4 linked regions of the Homo sapiens genome follow. The protein of the gene in region 1 interacts with the protein of each later gene in a biochemical or structural test. Each region holds a gene or a part of one and is shown in the gene's direction. Other genes may lie near its edges. The genes, in order: NUMB, NOTCH1, GLI1 and PRKCB.

The links.
Region 2: the proteins of NUMB (region 1) and NOTCH1 form a complex in vitro, tested with the Homo sapiens proteins (2 studies listed by BioGRID).
Region 3: the proteins of NUMB (region 1) and GLI1 form a complex in vitro, tested with the Homo sapiens proteins (one study listed by BioGRID).
Region 4: of the proteins of NUMB (region 1) and PRKCB, one has a biochemical effect on the other in vitro, tested with the Homo sapiens proteins (one study listed by BioGRID).

Annotation. Positions count from the first base shown.
Region 1 is NC_000014.9:73,447,220-73,452,694, reverse strand, and holds part of NUMB (protein numb homolog), read left to right. Parts: intron 1-5,475. UniProt on the Homo sapiens protein: Regulates clathrin-mediated receptor endocytosis. Plays a role in the process of neurogenesis.
Region 2 is NC_000009.12:136,497,549-136,503,023, reverse strand, and holds part of NOTCH1 (neurogenic locus notch homolog protein 1 preproprotein), read left to right. Parts: intron 1-535; coding exon 536-752; intron 753-935; coding exon 936-1,023; intron 1,024-1,110; coding exon 1,111-1,276; intron 1,277-2,176; coding exon 2,177-2,472; intron 2,473-3,764; coding exon 3,765-3,912; intron 3,913-4,027; coding exon 4,028-4,125; intron 4,126-5,465; coding exon 5,466-5,475. UniProt on the Homo sapiens protein: Functions as a receptor for membrane-bound ligands Jagged-1 (JAG1), Jagged-2 (JAG2) and Delta-1 (DLL1) to regulate cell-fate determination.
Region 3 is NC_000012.12:57,468,428-57,473,386, forward strand, and holds the end of GLI1 (zinc finger protein GLI1), read left to right. Parts: intron 1-1,003; coding exon 1,004-1,271; intron 1,272-1,889; coding exon 1,890-3,634; 3' UTR 3,635-3,841; downstream 3,842-4,959. Other genes in the region: ARHGAP9 (rho GTPase-activating protein 9), read right to left, coding at 4,090-4,261. UniProt on the Homo sapiens protein: Acts as a transcriptional activator. Binds to the DNA consensus sequence 5'-GACCACCCA-3'. Regulates the transcription of specific genes during normal development.
Region 4 is NC_000016.10:24,089,705-24,095,179, forward strand, and holds part of PRKCB (protein kinase C beta type), read left to right. Parts: intron 1-3,086; coding exon 3,087-3,243; intron 3,244-4,458; coding exon 4,459-4,593; intron 4,594-5,475. UniProt on the Homo sapiens protein: Calcium-activated, phospholipid- and diacylglycerol (DAG)-dependent serine/threonine-protein kinase involved in various cellular processes such as regulation of the B-cell receptor (BCR) signalosome, oxidative stress-induced apoptosis, androgen receptor-dependent transcription regulation, insulin signaling and endothelial cells proliferation.

The DNA of each region.
Region 1 (5,475 bases):
CACTTGTCCTCTCCAGTGGAGTATGGGATTAGGAAGAGACCCCCAGTCATCTTAAATGCATTAACCAAGGAGTTGCTATATTAGTAATTAACGTTCAGTGACTTCCCCCTCTCTACCCACGAAAACCCTGTTTCTCCCCACTTGTTTGCTGATAAGTTACGTTCCTTTTTTTTGAGACGGTGTCTTGCTCTTTTGACGTGGAGGGAGTATGCAGTGGCATGATCTCGGCTCACTGCAGCCTCAACATTCTGGGCTCAGGTGATCCTTCTGCCTCAGCCTCTCCAGTTGCTGGGACTACAGGCTGCCCAGTTTTGTTTTGTTTTGTTTTGTTTTTGAGACAGAGTTTCGTTCTCGTTGCCCAGGCTGGAGTACAATGGCACAATTTTAGCTCACCGCAACCTCCACTTCCTGGGTTCAGGTGATTCTCCTGCCTCATCCTCCCTAGTAGCTGGGATTACAGGTGTGCACTACCACACCCCGCTAATTTTTGCATTTTTAGTAGAGATGAGGTTTCACCATTTTGGTCAGGCTGGTCTTGAACTCCTGGTCTCAGGTGATCCATCCACCCTGGCCTCCCAAAGTTCTGGGATTCCAGGCGTGAGCCACCACGCCTGGCCAGTTTTTTTTTTGGGGGGTAGAGACAGGGTCTTGTTAAACTCCTAAACTCAGGCAGTCCTCCCAAAGTGTTGGGATTACAGGCATGAGCTACCGTGCTCAGGCTATCTTACGTTCTTTTAACCAAGATCAAAGTCTTCAATTACCTGAGTAGGACAGCAAAATCTTAATTATGGTAACTTGATTATATTAAGGTGAATTATAGTTAATTTGGAACATTTCTAGTTTAATTAGGGAAGAAGAGGGAAAAACTGTAGAATACTGCTTAGCTCTGAATAAAGGCAAAGCTGGGGCAACCAGGGACACAGAAATCAGCTAAATTTGTAACTTTATTTAAGATTGGCCTTGGTTACCTTTGACTTTGGAAAAGTAATAGTGATACTTTCGTCTAGTCACTTGTGCATATGTACATCTCAGGTACATTTTGATTTTATCATGTAGATAATTTGTGAAGGTTTATTTACTTAATTTATTTTATTTAAAGATGCCCAGGCTGGAGTGCAGTGGCACAATCTCGGCTCACTGAAATCTCCACCTCCCAGGTTCAAGCAATTGTCCTGCGTCAGGCTACCGAGTAGCTGGGACTACAGGGGCATGCCACTATGCCTGGCTAATTTTTGTTGTAGGTTTTTTTTTTTTTTTTTTAGACGGTGTCTCCTCTGTTGCCCAGGCTGGAGTGCAGTGGCTCAATCTTGGCTCACTGCAACCTCCGCCTTGTGGGTTCAAGTAATTCTCCTGCTTTAGCCTCCCGAATAGCTGGGACTACAGGCACACGCCACCACACCTGGCTAGTTTTTTGTATTTTTAGTAGAGATGGGGTTTCACCATATTGGCCAGGCTGGTATTGAACTCCTGACCTCGTGATCTGCCTGCCTCAGCCTCCCGAAGTGTAGATTTGTTTTTTGTTTTTTTTTTTTTTTTTTTTTGAGACAGAGTCCTGCTCTGTCGCCCAGGATAGAGTGCAATGGTGCAATCTTGGCTTACTGCAACCTCCGCCTCCTGGGTTCAAGCAATTCTCCTGCCTCAGCCTCTCAAGTAGCTGGGATTACAGGTGCCAACTAGCATGCCCAGCTAACTTTTTTGTATTTTTAGTAGAGACGGGATTTCACCGTGTTGCTCAGGCTAGTCTTGAACTCCTGGCCTCAAGTGATCCTCCTGCCTCGGCCTCCCAAAGTGCTGGGATTACAGGCGTGAGTCACTGCGTTTGGTTTATTTACTTAATTTCTTTTAATATAAGCGACTTTGTTATAAGAAGTTTTAACTCCCAGTATTCTGTTTTGTTTTTTTTTTTAAGATGGGGTCTCGCTCTGTCTTCCAGGCTGGAGTGCTGTGGCACGATCTCGGCTCACTGCAACCTCCGCCTATCAGGTTCAAGCGATTATCCTGCCTTCCGAGTAGCTGGGATTACAGGCGTGTGCCACCACGCCCGGCTAATTTTTGTATTTTTAGTAGAAACAGGGTTCCGCCATATTGGCCAGGCTGATCTCAAACTCCTGACCTCAAGTAATCCACCTGCCTTGGCCTCCCAAAGTGTTGGGATTACAGGCGTGAGCCACTGCGCCCAGCCTAGCTCCCAGTATTCTTTAATCAAGATAAAACTTTTTTTTCCTCCAAACTAGTATCTCACAGAACCATAGAATAGCCTGCTGATGACAGAAATATATTTGTGACTGCCATGTTATGAAATTGAAAGAGCATCATTTATGTCCAGAGGCAGCATGACAGAATGGACAAAATTCATTATAATTGTGTGACCATGATTTTGAATCTTGACTTTATCGTTAATTTACTAATTGAGCAGTTTATTAAACTTCTTTTAGATTCAGTTTCGTCATCCATAAAATGGAGCTTATGCTATCCTCCACATCAGGGTGATGGTGAGAATTAAATGAAAAGCATTTTGTGTAGTGTATAGCATTTTGCCCATAGTGGGCACTTAACAAATTGTAATTGTTAATTATTAATAATTATCACATTAGATCTATTATAGACTTCTCTTTTAGGATGGGCTAATATTCCAGATACTGTTATTGTAAGCATTGTGGCAGCTAGGAAAACCAGAGTCGACTTTAAAACATTACAGGTATTTTAAGGCTGGGCGCGGTGGCTCACATCTGTAATCCCAGCACTTTGGGAGGCCAAAGTGGGCGGATCACCTGAGGTCAGGAGTTCGAGACCAGCCTGGCCAACATGGCGAAAGCCCGTGTCTACTAAAAATACAAAAATTAGCTGGGAGTAGTGGTGCATGCCTGTAATCCCAGCTACTCAGGAGGCTGAGGCAGGAGAATTGCTTGAACTTGGGAGGCAGAGGTTGCAGTGAGCCGAGCCACTGCACTCCAGCCTGGGCGACAGAGTGTGACTCTGTATCAAAAAACAAACACCAAAACATTACATATATTTTAAACATTTACTACTTCAGTTTGTTTTTGTGGTTGGTTTATTTTGGTGTATTAGACTGAAACATGGGGTAAATGAAGCTAATATTTTGTTGTGTGGTCACAGGCTGTTTATCTATCATATTATAGTCAGCCCTTATCTGTGTATTCTGCATCCTTGGATTCAACCAGCAGTTGATAGAAAATATTTGGAAAGAAAACCCAATAAAAAATAAAACAATACAAATAATACGAATAAATACAGTATAAGTATTTACATAGCTTTTACATTGTATTAGGTATTATATTAATAAGTAATCTAGAGATTATATAACATATATGGGAGAATGTGTGCAGGTTATATGCAAATACAGGTATCAGTGGGGGATTGATTCCAGGACCCCAATATACCAAAATCCATAGATGCACAGGTCACTTATATAAGATGGTGTAGTATTTACATATAACCTGCACACATTCTCCCGTATACTTTGAATTATTTCTCTAGATTAATTATAATACTTAATATTAGGTTGGTGCAAAAGTAATTACAGCTTTTGCCATTAAAAGTAATAGCAAAAACACAATTACTTTTACACCAACCTAATATGATATAAATGTTATGTACATAGTTATACTGTATTGTTTAGGGTATAATGACAAGAAAGAAAAGTAGGTACATGTTCATTACAACCATCCATTTTTTTTTCCGAATATATTTGATGCAAGATTGGTTGAATCCTCCTGTGTGGGACCCATGGATACAGAGGACCGACTGTACTATGCCATTATACATAAGGAACTGGGATATCTGCAGATTTTGGTATCCATGGGGTCCTGGATCGAGTCCCCCTCAGATACCAAGATGTGACTGTACCTGGTCCTCTTCCAAATACATGTGAGTTTTTGACAACAGTGGAAACCATTAATCCTACTACTAGAAAAAAACAATTGAGCATTATATTATTTACTGATTTTGTTATTAAAATCATTGCTTTTATTGAATTATTTTATTTACTGATATTGTTAATGATTTTAAATTAGTTCTAAATGCCAGTTAGAACCAGCTTATTTTTCCCTGGAGTTAATATATTTATCTTCGCAATTCAAGTAGAAATAGTTTTTATTTCAGAATTTAAGCCCTGTATCTTCCTTAGATAAGGATTTGGTCAAATGAAAGAAAAATCTGTATTTGTAGAAAGCTGTTAAAATCTGGCCTGGTGTGGTGGCTCATGCCTTTAATCCCAGCACTTTGGGAGCCAAGGAGGGAGAATTGCTGGAGCCTAGGGTTTTGATAAAAGCCTGGGCAACGTAGCAAGACCCTATCTCTATTATAAATTAAAAAAAATAAAGCTGTTAAAAGCTATATTATTTATTGTCTCTGATGAAAGGTGTACAATTTCCATCACATTCATGATGTAATAGACTTCAAATCTCATCAGTGAACATAATTTTGAATTATTATTTTAAAGAGTTGATTCATTCTTGTTTTTGAAAATTATCTAGCATTGGTGGTATGAAGGAAAGATATTTCCTGTAGTAGCCAAGTAAGTCTTCCTTAACTCTTGCAAGGAAAGCAGTCCCAAATACTATATTGAAAATATTAGAGGCCAGATGCGGTGGCTCATGCCTGTAATCCCAGCAGTTTGGGAGGCCGAGGCAGGCGAATCACTTGAGCTCAGAGTTCGAGACCAGCCTGGCCAACGTGGTAAAACCCAGTCTTTACTAAAAATACAAAAAAGTAGCTGGGTGTGGTGGTGCATGCCTGTTGTCCCAGCTACTAGGGAGGCTGAGGTGGGAGAATCGCTTGAACCCGAGGGTTGGGGGTAGGGTAGGGGGCATTGTAGTGAGCCATGATTGTGCCACTGCACTCCAGCCTGGGTGACAGAGTCAGCCTCCATCTCAAAAAAAAAAAAAAATCGGCAAGAAAATGAACTGCAAATGTCCATTTACATGACTGGTCATTTATAAAAATGTTAACATGTTACATCAAATGTTGTTCTTTATTTTTTCTTTTCTTTTTTTTTTTGTAGAGATGAGGTCATTCTATGTTGCGCAGGTTTGTTTGTTTTTTTTTCCTTTTTAGTGATCCTCCTGCCTCAGTCTCCCAAAGTGCTGGGATTATAAGTGTCAGACACTGTGCTCAGCCTATTGTTCATTTCTTAGTATCTTTCTGTAATACTCTAGACTAATTTTATATATATTTATTTATTTTTTGAGATGGAGTCTTGCACTGTCGCCTGGGCTGGAGCGCAATGGCGTGATCTCGGCTCATGGCAACCTCCACCTCTTGGGTTCAAGTGACTCTTCTGCCTCAGCCGCCTGAGTAGCTGGGATTACAGGCACCTGCCACCACGCCCAGCTAATTTTTTGTATTTTTAGTAGAGACGGGGTTTCACTATGTTGGCCAGTCTGGTCTCGAACTCCTGACCTCGTGATCTGCCCACCTTAGCCTCCCAAAGTGCTGAGATTACAGGCGTGAGCC
Region 2 (5,475 bases), on another chromosome or scaffold:
TCCGCCCCCACCTGCGGCGGTCACAGCTGCCGGTGGAGCCACCTGGGAACGAGTCCAGCCACGGGAAAGTGGGTGCCTGCTTCTCTCCCCACCCTTTCCTCCTGAATTTTCTTTGTTGGGTATTATTTCAAAATCATTACGGCTTTTTTTAAAGAAAAAAAAAGAGAGAGAGAGAAGAATTGATCGGTGTCATGTGAAGTGTTGAAGTTTGTATCTTGAAAATCCCTCTAAATCCTTTGTCTTAACAGCTCAGTGCGAGTGCAGCGATTTGAAGTTGACTAATCCTCCTTCCTTAAAGGAGAAAAAAGTAAAAGCCGTCTCCAGATAGAGTCGGCTGGTGCAGGAGAGAATTTAGCGATAGTTTGCAATTCTGATTAATCGCGTAGAAAATGACCTTATTTTGGAGGGCGGGATGGAGGAGAGTGGGTGAGGAGGCGCCCGGACGCGGAGCCAGTCCGCCGCCCCCCGGCCACCAGCCTGCTGCGTAGCCGCTGCCTGATGTCCGGGCACCTGCCCCTGGCCCCCGTGCCCGCAGGTGAGACCGTGGAGCCGCCCCCGCCGGCGCAGCTGCACTTCATGTACGTGGCGGCGGCCGCCTTTGTGCTTCTGTTCTTCGTGGGCTGCGGGGTGCTGCTGTCCCGCAAGCGCCGGCGGCAGCATGGCCAGCTCTGGTTCCCTGAGGGCTTCAAAGTGTCTGAGGCCAGCAAGAAGAAGCGGCGGGAGCCCCTCGGCGAGGACTCCGTGGGCCTCAAGTGAGCGGACGCCGCCCCTGCTTCTGGGTCCCCGGTGGGAGGTGGGACCTGGCCGAGCATCCTCACCGGGAGTCTGCCCCTCCCGACCCAGGGCCCACCTCCCACGCCAGGCCCGGGCCAGGGGTCTCTGGGGGCTTCCTAGGGAGCTCGCTCAGCCTCACTTCTCGACCCCTCACCCCCCAGGCCCCTGAAGAACGCTTCAGACGGTGCCCTCATGGACGACAACCAGAATGAGTGGGGGGACGAGGACCTGGAGACCAAGAAGTTCCGGGTGAGTCGCGAGGCTCCCGGGCTCCTGGGCTCCCGGGCACCTGCTGCCGGGCTGCCCTGACAGGCTCTGCTCACTCCCTCTATGTAGTTCGAGGAGCCCGTGGTTCTGCCTGACCTGGACGACCAGACAGACCACCGGCAGTGGACTCAGCAGCACCTGGATGCCGCTGACCTGCGCATGTCTGCCATGGCCCCCACACCGCCCCAGGGTGAGGTTGACGCCGACTGCATGGACGTCAATGTCCGCGGGCCTGGTAAGGGTGCCAGCAGCCAGGGCTTCCCTAGCCCCGTGGCCCACCTGCCTCTCTCCCCTAAGCCCCGAGGCTGGGGTACAGTTGATACTCTGGAAACTTAGAATTGGGGGTGAGAGCTTTCATCCTTGGGGTGTTTCCCATTCAGAGTAGACGTGGGGGGGTCCTGGAGTCCTCCTGTTCTTCCACCAACCCCTTCCTGGGGTGATACCGCAGGGCCACTCTGTCCCTGTAAATTACTCTTTTCTGAAACCTTCTTGAGACATGGAAAGCGTTGATTTTCTTTTTCTTTTTTTTTTTCTTTTTTTTTTGTTTTTGAGATGGAGTCTCGCTCCGTCACCCAGGCTGGAGTGCAGTGGCACGATCTCGGCTCCCTGCAACCTCCACCTCTCGGGTTCAAGCAATTCTCCTGCCTCAGCCTCCCCAGTAGCTGGGACTACAGGCGCCTGCCACCACACCTGGCTAATTTTTGTATTTTTAGCAGCGATGGGGTTTCACCATGTTGGCCAGGCTGGTCTCGAACTCCTGACCTCAGGTGATCCGCCCACCTCGGCCTCCCCCAGTGCTAGGATGACAGCGTGAGCCTCCGCATCCTGCTGAAGCATTAATTTTCTAACTGCATGCTTCTGGGGTCCTCTTTTTCCTGGGTGGATTTTGGGTGCCAGGTCTTGGGCAGGTCAGGAAGCAGTTGCCCGCCAGGAGTTTAAGCTGGATTCGGCTCTGTCCACTGAGCAGCCCAGGCGGACTTCAGCTGCCCCTTGGTGGCTGTGTGCACGGGGCCACCAAGTGCTGGGTGGTGCATCCACACCGTGGCCCCTTGAGCTTGGGGCTGCTGCCCCCCTCCCCCTGGGCTGCAGCTGGGGACCGGCCCTCCAGACTGAGCACCCGTCTCTGCCTCTGCAGATGGCTTCACCCCGCTCATGATCGCCTCCTGCAGCGGGGGCGGCCTGGAGACGGGCAACAGCGAGGAAGAGGAGGACGCGCCGGCCGTCATCTCCGACTTCATCTACCAGGGCGCCAGCCTGCACAACCAGACAGACCGCACGGGCGAGACCGCCTTGCACCTGGCCGCCCGCTACTCACGCTCTGATGCCGCCAAGCGCCTGCTGGAGGCCAGCGCAGATGCCAACATCCAGGACAACATGGGCCGCACCCCGCTGCATGCGGCTGTGTCTGCCGACGCACAAGGTGTCTTCCAGGTAGGCAGTGGCTGCCTGTGTGCCCACCTGCCCTCCTCAGGGCCGCCTGGTGGTCTGGGGCAGTGGCCAGGCTTACGTGGCCCTGGGAGCCTGACCCCGAGCACAGCTGAGTCCGGGACAACTGGTGCCTCCACCTGGGACCTTCGCAGTCAGCGAGGTGCGAGGGGGAGGGCGTCGGGCCCATCTGTGTTCTCCAGGGAAGTCAGGCAGAGGCGGGTCTGGCAGGAGGCCTGGGGGATCTGCTGAGTGAGGCAGCACCTCCCCACCCCCAGCAAAACAGGCTCCATCAGGGTTGTGGGCCTTGCTCAAGGTCCAGGTTCCACTGCTGCAGCCCCTCGCAGCCCCGCCCCTCCCTCAACCTTGGCTGCCGGCGTAGCCTGTGGCAGTGAGAAGCAGGGTTTAGAGGCTGCCGCTCGGTGCCTGCAGACCTAGGGCTCAGCTTGCCGGTGAGCTCGTGGCAAGAATGGATTTAGGGATTTGGATGCCTGGGTCTCCAGGGAGTGTCCCTGGCAGGGGCTGCCTTTGCAGTCACCCCTGCTGCGAGTCCCCAGGCTCCAGGCGGCCCTGGAGCAAGCAGGTTCAGATGGGCACAGCCCGGGGAGTTACCACAGAGCTTCTCATTTCCTGATTTCTTAGCTCAGGTGACACATTGTCATCTCGCAGAAATAAATGTAGGTGAGCAGAAAGAGCGTGGAAGGGAGCCCCGTGCGGGTTTGGTGTGTGCCTCTCTCAGCTGCCTTCTTTGCACAGATGTGGAAGTTCCCAGGTGCTTTGCAGGAATCAGGCCAAGTTGCCTTTTGCACCCGCCAGTGAGCAGGGGCCATTCCTCCTGCCAGATGCCAAGACCCGGCTGCATTACAAGGGCTGCCCACCCCCTCTCTGGGCAGAGCCGGACACTAGCTCGGCGGTTCTGAGACGGCTGTAGGGCCGTGAGCCCGGCTTCCTGAGTGCCAGCTGTAACCGCCGTTGGGGGCAGGGACTTGACCTCTCTGTTTTGTAGGTGGTCATGGCAGCTAGGACCACAGTGAGGATTAAATGAGGCCACACGTGGTCACGATGGATCCCACTGTCACCAAGGGGCCTGTCTGTGGGCAGCACAGCCCCTGCCCCCATCCGGGCCCCTCCTCAGGGGCAGCCCCATGGCGTTTCGTCTTGCCCGGCCGTGCCGATCTCAGGAGGGTCTCGTCTGTGTCCGGAAGACAGTGGGGCTTCCCGTCCAGGCGTTCGTTCTGGGCAGGAGGCATCGGTGTACGTCTGCCCAGCACCCGCCTGAGCCTCTCCCTGTTGCCCAGATCCTGATCCGGAACCGAGCCACAGACCTGGATGCCCGCATGCATGATGGCACGACGCCACTGATCCTGGCTGCCCGCCTGGCCGTGGAGGGCATGCTGGAGGACCTCATCAACTCACACGCCGACGTCAACGCCGTAGATGACCTGGGTGAGCCCACGGGGGCACGGCTGCTCTGTCGTGGGGCGGGACCGCCACAGGGACGGGTGGGACTGGGTTGCCTCCAGCTGGTCTCCAACCTACCCCATCTGCTTCTTTCACGCAGGCAAGTCCGCCCTGCACTGGGCCGCCGCCGTGAACAATGTGGATGCCGCAGTTGTGCTCCTGAAGAACGGGGCTAACAAAGATATGCAGAACAACAGGGTGAGCGCGAGGCTGGGATGCCAGGGGAGACGTGAGGGCTGAATCCACAGAGAAGTGAGGGCCAAACCCACGGGGCGCAGGGACACAAGGGCCTGACCCACAGGGTCTCGAGGGTCGCTGGGCCCGCATGTGGGCCCCACCCGCATGATGCGGGCACCTCGTTAGTGCTCCTGCCTTCCTTCAGCCCCCGTTTATGGAGCCCTTCCAAGTGCAGGTCCAGCTGTCAGGACACGGCGGCTCGCCCCTCAGACCCAGCCCTACCCTCCTGGGCGGCAGTCATGGCGGGGCACACAGCCTGGCGTGGGGAACGCTGCTGCTGCCACTGCTGTGTCACCGTCACCTGGACCTCACCTTCTGTCCCCAGCTGTCACCAGGCGGGGGTGGGGATGGGAATGTGGTGACGCAGGTGGTGCAGATTGAGCCAGAACACGCGTGGCGGCAGCTCCCTGCGGGGCGGGGCCTCTTGGTGTGTTCACCAAGGCCAAGGACCTCAAGGCTCAGAGGAAGAAGTCTCAGGACTATATCCAAGGGGAGCCACCCCCAGCCCTCATCCTGGCCCTGCAGCTCCTGGCCCTGCAGCTGCTGTTGGTTTCCCCTGGGTGCTCAGGGCACAGGTGCAGACACCCCCACCTCCCTGCCGCCAGAACCCCCACCCCCGCCCCCAACTCCTGCTGCCCCCTTGGCATGTCAGGCTCAGGCGTCTCTCCCTCCTGGGTGAGGGCACACAGCGGGCCTGGGCACCGGGGCATGTTGGCCCAGGCGCTCCCCAGTCCGTGGCAGCATGGCCCCACAGAGACTGGGCCCCAGAGGGCATCAAGGCCTGGGAAGCCCCTTCCCACTCCCACACAGCAGCCTCACCCAGACCTGTGACGTGTCCACCGCACAGAGGAGACCCCAGGAAGGAGCTTGGTGGCCACCAGGGTGGCTTGATGGCCGTCCAGATGACGAGCTCCCTCCCTGGTGCCCTCGCCGGTGCCTCTGAACCGCTCCAGGAATTTCCTTTTGTGCCTTATTGGGGGCAGGGAAGAGGGCCTGCAGTTGGTTAGATTTTCAGTGGGGTCTGTGACCCCCCCATAGAGGTGGAGCCCCGCTGATCTAGGGTAGAGGACTGCACAGATCCCCTCTCTGGGTGGGTTTCAGAAGATGTATCAAAGCCTTAACATTTAACAAGAGTCAGGCTAGGTGGTTGCAGGACGCTGGGGTGGGGTCCTGAGGAGCAGCCTGCCTGCCCCCACCCCGCGGAGGAGGTTGTACTGCTGCTTCCTCTGGTGATGGAACCTTGGGGAGGGTCCCCACGCCTGGCCTGGCCCCCCTCACCGGCCCCCGCCCTCATCCCCCAGGAGGAGACAC
Region 3 (4,959 bases), on another chromosome or scaffold:
TTCTCTCTCTCCTTCCTTCCTTCTTTCCTTCTTTCCTTTCTTCCTTTCTTTCTTTCTCTCTCTCTCTCTTTCTCTCTTTCTTTCTGACAGAGTCTTGCTCTGTCGCCCAGGCTGGAGTGTAGTGGCATAATCATAGCTCACTGCAGCCTCAAACTTCTGGGCTCAAGTGATCACTACAGGCACACCCCATCATGCCTGGCTAATTTTTCTTCTTTTTAGAGATCGAGTCTTGCTATGTTGACCAGGCTGGTCTCAAACTCCTGGCCTTGAGCGATCCTCCCACCTCAGCTTCCCACAGTGCTGGGATGAGCCAATGCATCCAACCCAAACTCTTTCTTTTTTTTTCAGACGGAGTCTCGCTCTGTTGCCCAGGCTGGAGTGCAGTGGCATGATCTCGGCTCACTGCAACCTCCGCCTCCCAGGTTCACGCCATTCTGCCTCAGCCTCCTGAGTAGCTGGGACTACAGGCGCCTGCCACCACGCCGGGCTAATTTTTTTGTATTTTTAGTAGACATGGGGTTTCACTGTGTTAACCAGGGTGGTCTTGATCTCCTGACCTCGTGATCTGCCCACCTCGGCCTCCCAAAGTGCTGGGATTACAGGCGTGAGCCACTGCACCCGGCAACTCTTTCTTAAATAGCACTTAGTATATGTTCCAAGCCTTTTACATGTATAATTTCATGTACTCCTCACAGCAACTTCATGATAAAGGGACTCACTGTTCCCATTTTCAGTTGAAGAAACTCAGGCATAGAGAAATAGCCCAAGGTCATAGAACTAAGAGCAAGAATTTGAGTCCAGCCAGTCCGTGCTCCAGCCTAGGTTCTTCTCATCAAACGTCTCACATTCAGTTTGCTCCCCCATCTCTTACCTGCTTAGCCCTTTCTACACTTACAAGCTTCCTTGGAACCCCAGCAGTCACTGGGACACAGGCTTCAGCCACTCATCAAGTTGAAGGAGCTGTGGGGAAGGGTGTTGCCCTCAGACCTCATCTTCTCCACAGAAGCCACAGCCAAGCCCTGGGGCCCAGTCATCCTGCAGCAGTGACCACTCCCCGGCAGGGAGTGCAGCCAATACAGACAGTGGTGTGGAAATGACTGGCAATGCAGGGGGCAGCACTGAAGACCTCTCCAGCTTGGACGAGGGACCTTGCATTGCTGGCACTGGTCTGTCCACTCTTCGCCGCCTTGAGAACCTCAGGCTGGACCAGCTACATCAACTCCGGCCAATAGGGACCCGGGGTCTCAAACTGCCCAGCTTGTCCCACACCGGTGAGACCTGGGTGTGGGAGGTGTGGCTGGGGTGAGATCTGGACCTGCCCTGAGGTTGAGAGGAGGAAGTCACCCTTGAGGGCTGTCACACAGCACTTTTGTATAATTAGAAAATGGTGTCCTTCCTCAAGACACTTTCCATTTATCAGAAAATAGTTGTGATGTACAAACATGCAAAGGCTAGCCAGGCATGGTGGTGGGCACCTGTAATCCCAGCTACTCAGGAAGCTGAAGCAGGAGAATTGCTTGAACCTGGGAGGCAGAGGTTGCAGTGAGCTGAGATTGCGCCATTGCACTCCAACTTGAGCAACAAGAGCGAAACTCTGTTTCAAACAAAACAAAACAAAACAAACAAACAAACAAGTATGCAAAGGCTATGATGCGAATGCTGTTCCCTAGGATTGTGCAGCACACAACCTGCACAACTGTTCATAGCAACCCTGAATCCTTGGTAACCCAGAAACAGAATAGGCATGGGAGAAGTAGGAGACAGAACAGACTGGTTAGGGATAACGAGCTTACCCCTGAGAATCCAGGGCAAGGCTGTTGCATGGAGGAGGCAGGGTGAAATTTAGGAAGCTCCTTGACCATCCTACCTTTTCTCCCCATCACTTGCAGGTACCACTGTGTCCCGCCGCGTGGGCCCCCCAGTCTCTCTTGAACGCCGCAGCAGCAGCTCCAGCAGCATCAGCTCTGCCTATACTGTCAGCCGCCGCTCCTCCCTGGCCTCTCCTTTCCCCCCTGGCTCCCCACCAGAGAATGGAGCATCCTCCCTGCCTGGCCTTATGCCTGCCCAGCACTACCTGCTTCGGGCAAGATATGCTTCAGCCAGAGGGGGTGGTACTTCGCCCACTGCAGCATCCAGCCTGGATCGGATAGGTGGTCTTCCCATGCCTCCTTGGAGAAGCCGAGCCGAGTATCCAGGATACAACCCCAATGCAGGGGTCACCCGGAGGGCCAGTGACCCAGCCCAGGCTGCTGACCGTCCTGCTCCAGCTAGAGTCCAGAGGTTCAAGAGCCTGGGCTGTGTCCATACCCCACCCACTGTGGCAGGGGGAGGACAGAACTTTGATCCTTACCTCCCAACCTCTGTCTACTCACCACAGCCCCCCAGCATCACTGAGAATGCTGCCATGGATGCTAGAGGGCTACAGGAAGAGCCAGAAGTTGGGACCTCCATGGTGGGCAGTGGTCTGAACCCCTATATGGACTTCCCACCTACTGATACTCTGGGATATGGGGGACCTGAAGGGGCAGCAGCTGAGCCTTATGGAGCGAGGGGTCCAGGCTCTCTGCCTCTTGGGCCTGGTCCACCCACCAACTATGGCCCCAACCCCTGTCCCCAGCAGGCCTCATATCCTGACCCCACCCAAGAAACATGGGGTGAGTTCCCTTCCCACTCTGGGCTGTACCCAGGCCCCAAGGCTCTAGGTGGAACCTACAGCCAGTGTCCTCGACTTGAACATTATGGACAAGTGCAAGTCAAGCCAGAACAGGGGTGCCCAGTGGGGTCTGACTCCACAGGACTGGCACCCTGCCTCAATGCCCACCCCAGTGAGGGGCCCCCACATCCACAGCCTCTCTTTTCCCATTACCCCCAGCCCTCTCCTCCCCAATATCTCCAGTCAGGCCCCTATACCCAGCCACCCCCTGATTATCTTCCTTCAGAACCCAGGCCTTGCCTGGACTTTGATTCCCCCACCCATTCCACAGGGCAGCTCAAGGCTCAGCTTGTGTGTAATTATGTTCAATCTCAACAGGAGCTACTGTGGGAGGGTGGGGGCAGGGAAGATGCCCCCGCCCAGGAACCTTCCTACCAGAGTCCCAAGTTTCTGGGGGGTTCCCAGGTTAGCCCAAGCCGTGCTAAAGCTCCAGTGAACACATATGGACCTGGCTTTGGACCCAACTTGCCCAATCACAAGTCAGGTTCCTATCCCACCCCTTCACCATGCCATGAAAATTTTGTAGTGGGGGCAAATAGGGCTTCACATAGGGCAGCAGCACCACCTCGACTTCTGCCCCCATTGCCCACTTGCTATGGGCCTCTCAAAGTGGGAGGCACAAACCCCAGCTGTGGTCATCCTGAGGTGGGCAGGCTAGGAGGGGGTCCTGCCTTGTACCCTCCTCCCGAAGGACAGGTATGTAACCCCCTGGACTCTCTTGATCTTGACAACACTCAGCTGGACTTTGTGGCTATTCTGGATGAGCCCCAGGGGCTGAGTCCTCCTCCTTCCCATGATCAGCGGGGCAGCTCTGGACATACCCCACCTCCCTCTGGGCCCCCCAACATGGCTGTGGGCAACATGAGTGTCTTACTGAGATCCCTACCTGGGGAAACAGAATTCCTCAACTCTAGTGCCTAAAGAGTAGGGAATCTCATCCATCACAGATCGCATTTCCTAAGGGGTTTCTATCCTTCCAGAAAAATTGGGGGAGCTGCAGTCCCATGCACAAGATGCCCCAGGGATGGGAGGTATGGGCTGGGGGCTATGTATAGTCTGTATACGTTTTGAGGAGAAATTTGATAATGACACTGTTTCCTGATAATAAAGGAACTGCATCAGAAAAAATACCATGCCACTTTATGTATTATTATGTTGGGGAGGAATGATAACAGGGAACAAGAAGAGAAGCAGGGGTTAATCCACTCACTTTCCTCTTTAGAGAAGCTCCCTCACCCATCCCAACACCTCAAGTCACACTCATGAAGATAGAGACAGTCATTTGGGAGATTTAAAGGGATATCCTCAAAACAGAACACCAGCCTCTCACCACCAGAGATGACCGGAAATATGTTTTCTCTTCTTCCTTCCCTGCATCAGGGGAAGAGGCTGGTGAAGTTGGTGAGCATCAGCTGGACCAGCTGCCCTGGGTAGAGAGCATGGGCTGCTGGGTCAGATGTCTCCTGCTCTGGCCGAAACAGGGTTGGTCCAAACACAATTCCCAGGTTGTGGGGTGTCATGCGATTCTTATCTGAGTGTGCTATCACCCTGTAAGCAAAGGCCAAGGAAGGGGATATATGGCAGCAGCTTGCCACTTCATAGCAATCTAACTAACCCTTCAAAGTTCTGAGCAGGGAAGAGTTCACTCTGGGATTCCTCCACATGGTAACAAAAAAACCAAGGAGATACAAGGAGAATGGAGATGGACCAGTGGAGAAACCTTCAGGATACAACCTGAAGATATAACTGCCTCTTCCGACTTCAGGGGCTGCCCCAAGAGTTCTGCCTGCTCACAGTTTGGGAGTCTTTAATTCAAGTGGCCATCCTCTCTCAGAAGTCACTGCCCAGGCCCAGTTCAACCAAAGAAGCCATCAGCAATGTCCCAATGGGAGACAAAGAGGCAGAGGGAAGGGAGAAGTAAGATTTCCCTTATTCCTTTCACAGCATCTTGGTTCCATTTCCCCACTTGATGCTGACCTTTAGGTTTTGACCTAAAGTCTTTGACGGGCACGGTGTAATCCCAGCACTTTGGGAGGCTGAGGTGGGTAAATCACCTGAGGTCAGGAGTTCGAGACCAGCCTGGCCAACATGGTGAAACCCCGTCTCTACTAAAAATACAAAAATTAGCCAGGCGTGGTGGCGGGCACCTGTAATCCCAGTTACTCAGGAGGCTGAGGCAGGAGAATTACTTGAACCCGGGAGGCAGAGGTTGCAGTGAGCTGAAATTGCGCCACTGCACTCCAGTC
Region 4 (5,475 bases), on another chromosome or scaffold:
GTCGAGGCTGCAGTGAACCATGATCATGCCACTGCACTCCAGCCTGGGTGACAGAGTGAGACCTTGTCTCTCTCTCTCTCTCTCTCACACACACACACACAACAAAAACGTAGTGAAAGAGGGCATTGCATATGAATAAGAATAATAATGAAATAGCAGTAATATATAGCAGTTAACATTTATTGAGTATTTTTTAAGTTCCAGGTTCTGTGCTAAACATGTATATTCTTTATCCAATTTTACTCTTGTAACAACCTATTTTATTGATCAAGAAATTGAGGTTCATATGTGTGAAGTAACTGCTTGGTAAGATGCGGACCCTGGGATCTTATAGCCCTGTGTCCATGACACTATATGGTCTGTCTTGGGGACAAGATTAACATTTTATTTTGTCCCCTATATCCCCAGGGCCTAGCAGAATGCTTAGCACTTAGTAGGGACTTGCTTGTTGAACTTAACTGATCAAGGTCAACATCTTGCTTTTGGTGTAAAAATGAGATGCAGCTTGCAAGCTGAGATGGGAGATGAATTCAGCCTGTGGAAAAATAGAAGACACTGCCATGTTGCTGGAGTGCAGAAAAAATGTCAGCACAGAATAAGTTACAGCTTGATCCTGGTAGCCGATTCAATGCTTCTCCCATCTCATTTATTCGGTCTCAACCCCTTACTAGCTGTATCATTTTAGGGAAGTCAGTCTTATTTATTTTCCAGCAATGGTCAGCTGTTTGAGTGTAGGAAAAGGACAGAGTAAGAAAGGACAGGTATTTGAATTTAAGTAGGGCTGGGGTCATGTGAGACAAGTAAAATAAAAAGAAAGAGGGGCAAGGGAGTTGAGGGTCTTTCCAAAGGAGTAGCTAAAATGCACCATAAAATTGAATCTGGATATGAATGGAGTAAAAGCAAGAGGGAATAGGGAGATCAAGAGAATGTGTTGGGTTCGAGGGACTGATTGGTGGAGAATGGACTGACGAATAGGGGAAGATTTATTGCAGTAGAATAATAGAACTAATGAATTGGAAAAATAGAAATTGGTGTAAGATAGTAGGGTACTTGAAACTGAGATTGAGAAAGTGGTATAATTTCTGGGATAATAGGCTCCAGAGCGTGACCATGGTAGGAGATAACTATGATTGGGGGTGAGCAAAGGTTGCAGGAAATGAGGGGGTGCTTTCTCTCCTACTTTCCAATATTCTTTCTTCTAATCTGTTTTTCTTGTTATCTTGAGTTTACAAAATTTCTGGTTTTATTTATGCTGTGGATATTTTTCCAGCCTTTTCCCTATGGGCTGTCTGGGTGCAGGTTATGGGTGATACATGGATAATAGGTGCATCTTGGTTTAGAGGGTAACTCTTTATTTCTTACTGCACTTATGGAACACGAGAAAAAAAAGTATTAAATAATGGCTATGGTAATGGATATCTTTGTCTTATTCCTTACTTTAATGGAATTGCATTTATCATGAACCATGGTGCTGTTATTTCAGATAGCCTTTATCCTGTTAAAATTCTCTGCTGTTTCTAGATAACTACAATGATCTTATGGTTTTCTTCTTTGATCTATAAATATGATGAATATATTGAAAATAGATTTCCTAAGATTGAACCATCTTTGCATTCCTGATAGGAGTCATTATGTATTCACCTTTTAGCAGATAGTTAGAGTCGATTTGGATTGAATGTATTACTGTGGATTGTTCTACTGTAAGTGAGATGATTGACATTGTATCCTTAAGAGCTGTGCAATTCTCATTTTCTAGTCTGCTTCCATTGACTACCTGCATTACTGGTTTCTGAATTGATTCCTAATTAACTACTTCCTGTTTCTCCAAGCTGATGATTTAGTCTCCCTCATCCTTTCTATAGCCAGTTGCATCTTCACTGCTGATTCCCTGCCTCCTTTTCTCCTGTAAGTTCATCTTTTTTTTTTGACGGAGTCTCACTCTGTCGCCCAGGCTGGAGTGCAGTGGCATGATCTTGGCTCACTGCAAGCTCTGCCTCCTGGGTTCATGCCATTCTCCTGCCTGGGCCTCCCAAGTAGGTGGGACCACAGGCACCTGCCACCATGCCTGGCTAATTTTTTTGTATTGTTAGTAGAGACAGGGTTTCACCATGTTAGCCTTATAGCCTCTTTACCTGGGTGTTCTGGAGTCAGGGTGGAGCTGAGCTCTAATGCTGCTGACATTGTTCCAGCCTTCTCTCTATGGGCTGTCTGGGTGCTGGTTATGGGTGATACATGGATAATAGGTGTACCTTGGTTTAGAGGGTAATTCTTCCTTTCTTTAGCTTTTTCTTTTTGAATGGAGGTAAAATTAACGTAACATAAAATTAACCATTAACTGTTTTTAAACGTACAATTCAGTGACATTTATAGAATATTCACAGTGTTGGACAACCATCATCTCTATCTAGTTCTCAGAAATTTTCATCACCTCTAAAAGAAACCCTGTACTCATTAAGCAGTCACTCCCCATTTCCCTTTCCCTCCAGCCTCTGGCAACTATTAATAGTAGTCTACTTTCTGTCTCTATGGATTTACCTGTTTGGGATGTTTCATGTAAATGGAATCATACAATATGTGACCTTTTGTGTTGGGGTACACAAATGTTCATAGCAGCAGTATTCACAACAGCCAAAAAGTGGAAACAACCCAACTATGCATCAACTGCTGAATGGATAAACAAAATGTGGGATATCTATACAATGGAATATTATTCAGTCATGCAAAAAAATGAAGTGCTGATACATGCTATAATGTGGTGAACTTTGAAAACGTTATGCTAAATGAAAGAAGCCAGCCTTTCCTGTGGGCTTTGTGGAAAATAAGCTTAGAAAACTTACAGTTAATCTTGGTATGGGAAGAGCAGTGTAAAAGTCAGAAATCCATTTTTAACCAACACAGACCAGAGTTGACATCTTATCAGCCCATCTCATTTTGTGCACTGCTTCAGCTATGGATGTTAATAAAATTAAATTTCTCACTAAACAAGTGTGATGCCAAAGAACCTTCCACAAGTTCTGCAGCTGTCACTGCTTGGTGCTTAAACATGTTGGACAGTATTAATGCAAAAACTGCTTTTTCTTTTTCAGTAAGAGATGCTAAAAACCTTGTACCTATGGACCCCAATGGCCTGTCAGATCCCTACGTAAAACTGAAACTGATTCCCGATCCCAAAAGTGAGAGCAAACAGAAGACCAAAACCATCAAATGCTCCCTCAACCCTGAGTGGAATGAGACATTTAGATTGTAAGTGGAAATGACTGCAGTGAGCATGGGTGGTGGAGGTTGGGTTATGTGCCACCTGAAATCAGGGAGTTCCTCCTCCCTTAGCTCCTGTTTCCTTCCTTCCCTACCTCCCTCCTTTTCTGTCTTCTCCATCCCTCACTCCTATCTTTCCCTCCCTTCTTTTCCATCTGCAATTTTGTATTGTGAGCCAAGAAAAAAAATTAGAGCTATTTTTTTAATAGAGATGAGAATGCCTGTGGTGTGGGGGAGTGGGTAGGACAGGAAATGGTGTGATGTGTTGCTAAGTGAAGGCAAGTTGTGGGAGAAATGATGGGGCTCAGCAAATAGGGGAACATAACCTACAGGGTGTGGTGACAGCCTCTCTAGAGTTGGGTTTATGGATGATGCTTGGCCTGCAGCCTTCTGGGACATCTCCACCAGCCTCCCTTGAGGGTCTTCCCTGGCCAGGGCTCCAAGAATCTGGGAGTCTCTTTCTTGTACATCTAGGCATCAGGAGTTGGTTATAACAGCCAATTCACTGAGCATATATGATGTGTGACAAACACTGGGTTAAGCGATCCGACTTCATCGGCTCATTTTATTCCCAATGTAGCAATAGGGCTTATAGAGGTTAAAGAGTATGCCCAAAGTCCCATAGCAAATATGGGGTGGAGTGGGATTCAGCTTCTGGCAGTCTGACTTTAGCGGTCATACTTTTTTAGCCACCAGCTAGAAGCACAGTTCCTTGTCCTGTCTCCTCTTCCCTCTCTCAGGGCAAAGCTGGGCCCCTTCTCAGCCTCAGTCAAGGACATGTCTCAGAACAGACAATTTCCCCAGGATTTTTCTCCATGCATTTCCTCAGCCTCATTCTCAACCCACCTGTGTGCAGATATACACATGTACACACCCAATTATGCAATTGATATCTGTATTTCTTATAGGCAATAGGAATTCCTGAATATCCTGAACCCTATTAAGACATAAGATAACAAAAGTAGTTAGAACTGTTCTTGTCATAGCCAGTCTAAGACCTCTGCCTGTTTAAGCCACAGGCTGTCAAACAGAAAAAGCTCTCACTCCCTGGAGAGCTAGCCTGGGATGGAAACTGAATATGTTTCTTTCAGCAGCTTGTAATCTTTAAAACTTTCTACCTCCAGGTCTTGTCCTCTTGTACATTTATTCTGCTTGAGAAATTACTACAACCTCCACTGATGTCTTTTCTTTTTCTCTATGCAGTCAGCTGAAAGAATCGGACAAAGACAGAAGACTGTCAGTAGAGATTTGGGATTGGGATTTGACCAGCAGGAATGACTTCATGGGATCTTTGTCCTTTGGGATTTCTGAACTTCAGAAAGCCAGTGTTGATGGCTGGTAAGTAAGATTTTGCCTTGAAAGCTACCATACAGCTTGCTCCATCAAACGCGGGGTCAAGTATGTTTTCCTTTTTCTCCAAAAATTGAAATACTAAAACAGAGTCCCAAAGTGAAGTCTGGTTGATTGGATCTGCCTTGCAGATATGTTTTGTTTGGTCCTTGTACTAAAAACAAAAAAGAAAGAGGCCAGGCCTCGTGTCTGACACCTGTCATCCCAGCACTCTGGGAGGCCGAGGCAGGTAGATCACTTGAGCTCAGGAGTTTAAGACCAGTCTGGGCAACATGGTGAAACCCCATCTCTATCAAAAACATGAAAAATTAGCTGGGCATGGTGGTGTGTGCCTGTAGTTCCAGCTACTCAGGAGGCTGAGATGGGAGGATCACTTGAACCCTGGAGGCAGAGGTTGCAGTGAGCAAGGTGGTCAGAGATTGAGCCACTGCACTCCAGCCTGGGTGACAGAGTGATAAAAAAGAAAGAGAGAGAGAGAGAAGGAATGAAGGAAGGGAGGGAGGAAGGAAGGAAGGAAGGAAGGAAGGAAGGAAGGAAGGAAGGAAAGGAAGAAAAAGGGAAAGGGAAAGGAAGAAGAAAGAAAGAAGAAAGAAAGACGGAAAGCAGGAAGGAAGGAAGGGAGGAAGGGAAGGAGGGACAGAAGGAGGGAGGGAGGGAATTAGTTCTAGTATTTTAAAAATCTGGGGCTAGAAGGCAACAATTGAGAACAGTTGAATAGTTAATGCCCCCTTTAGACAGGACATGGATTTTCTATTTGTCACCGTCCTCACCACTCCCTATTTTATTACATCTGGGCCAATTTACTAAACTACATGATGAGACTGTAACTGCCCAGTGGCTTCTTTGTGCCTGCTGCCCAGACAGAGCCGA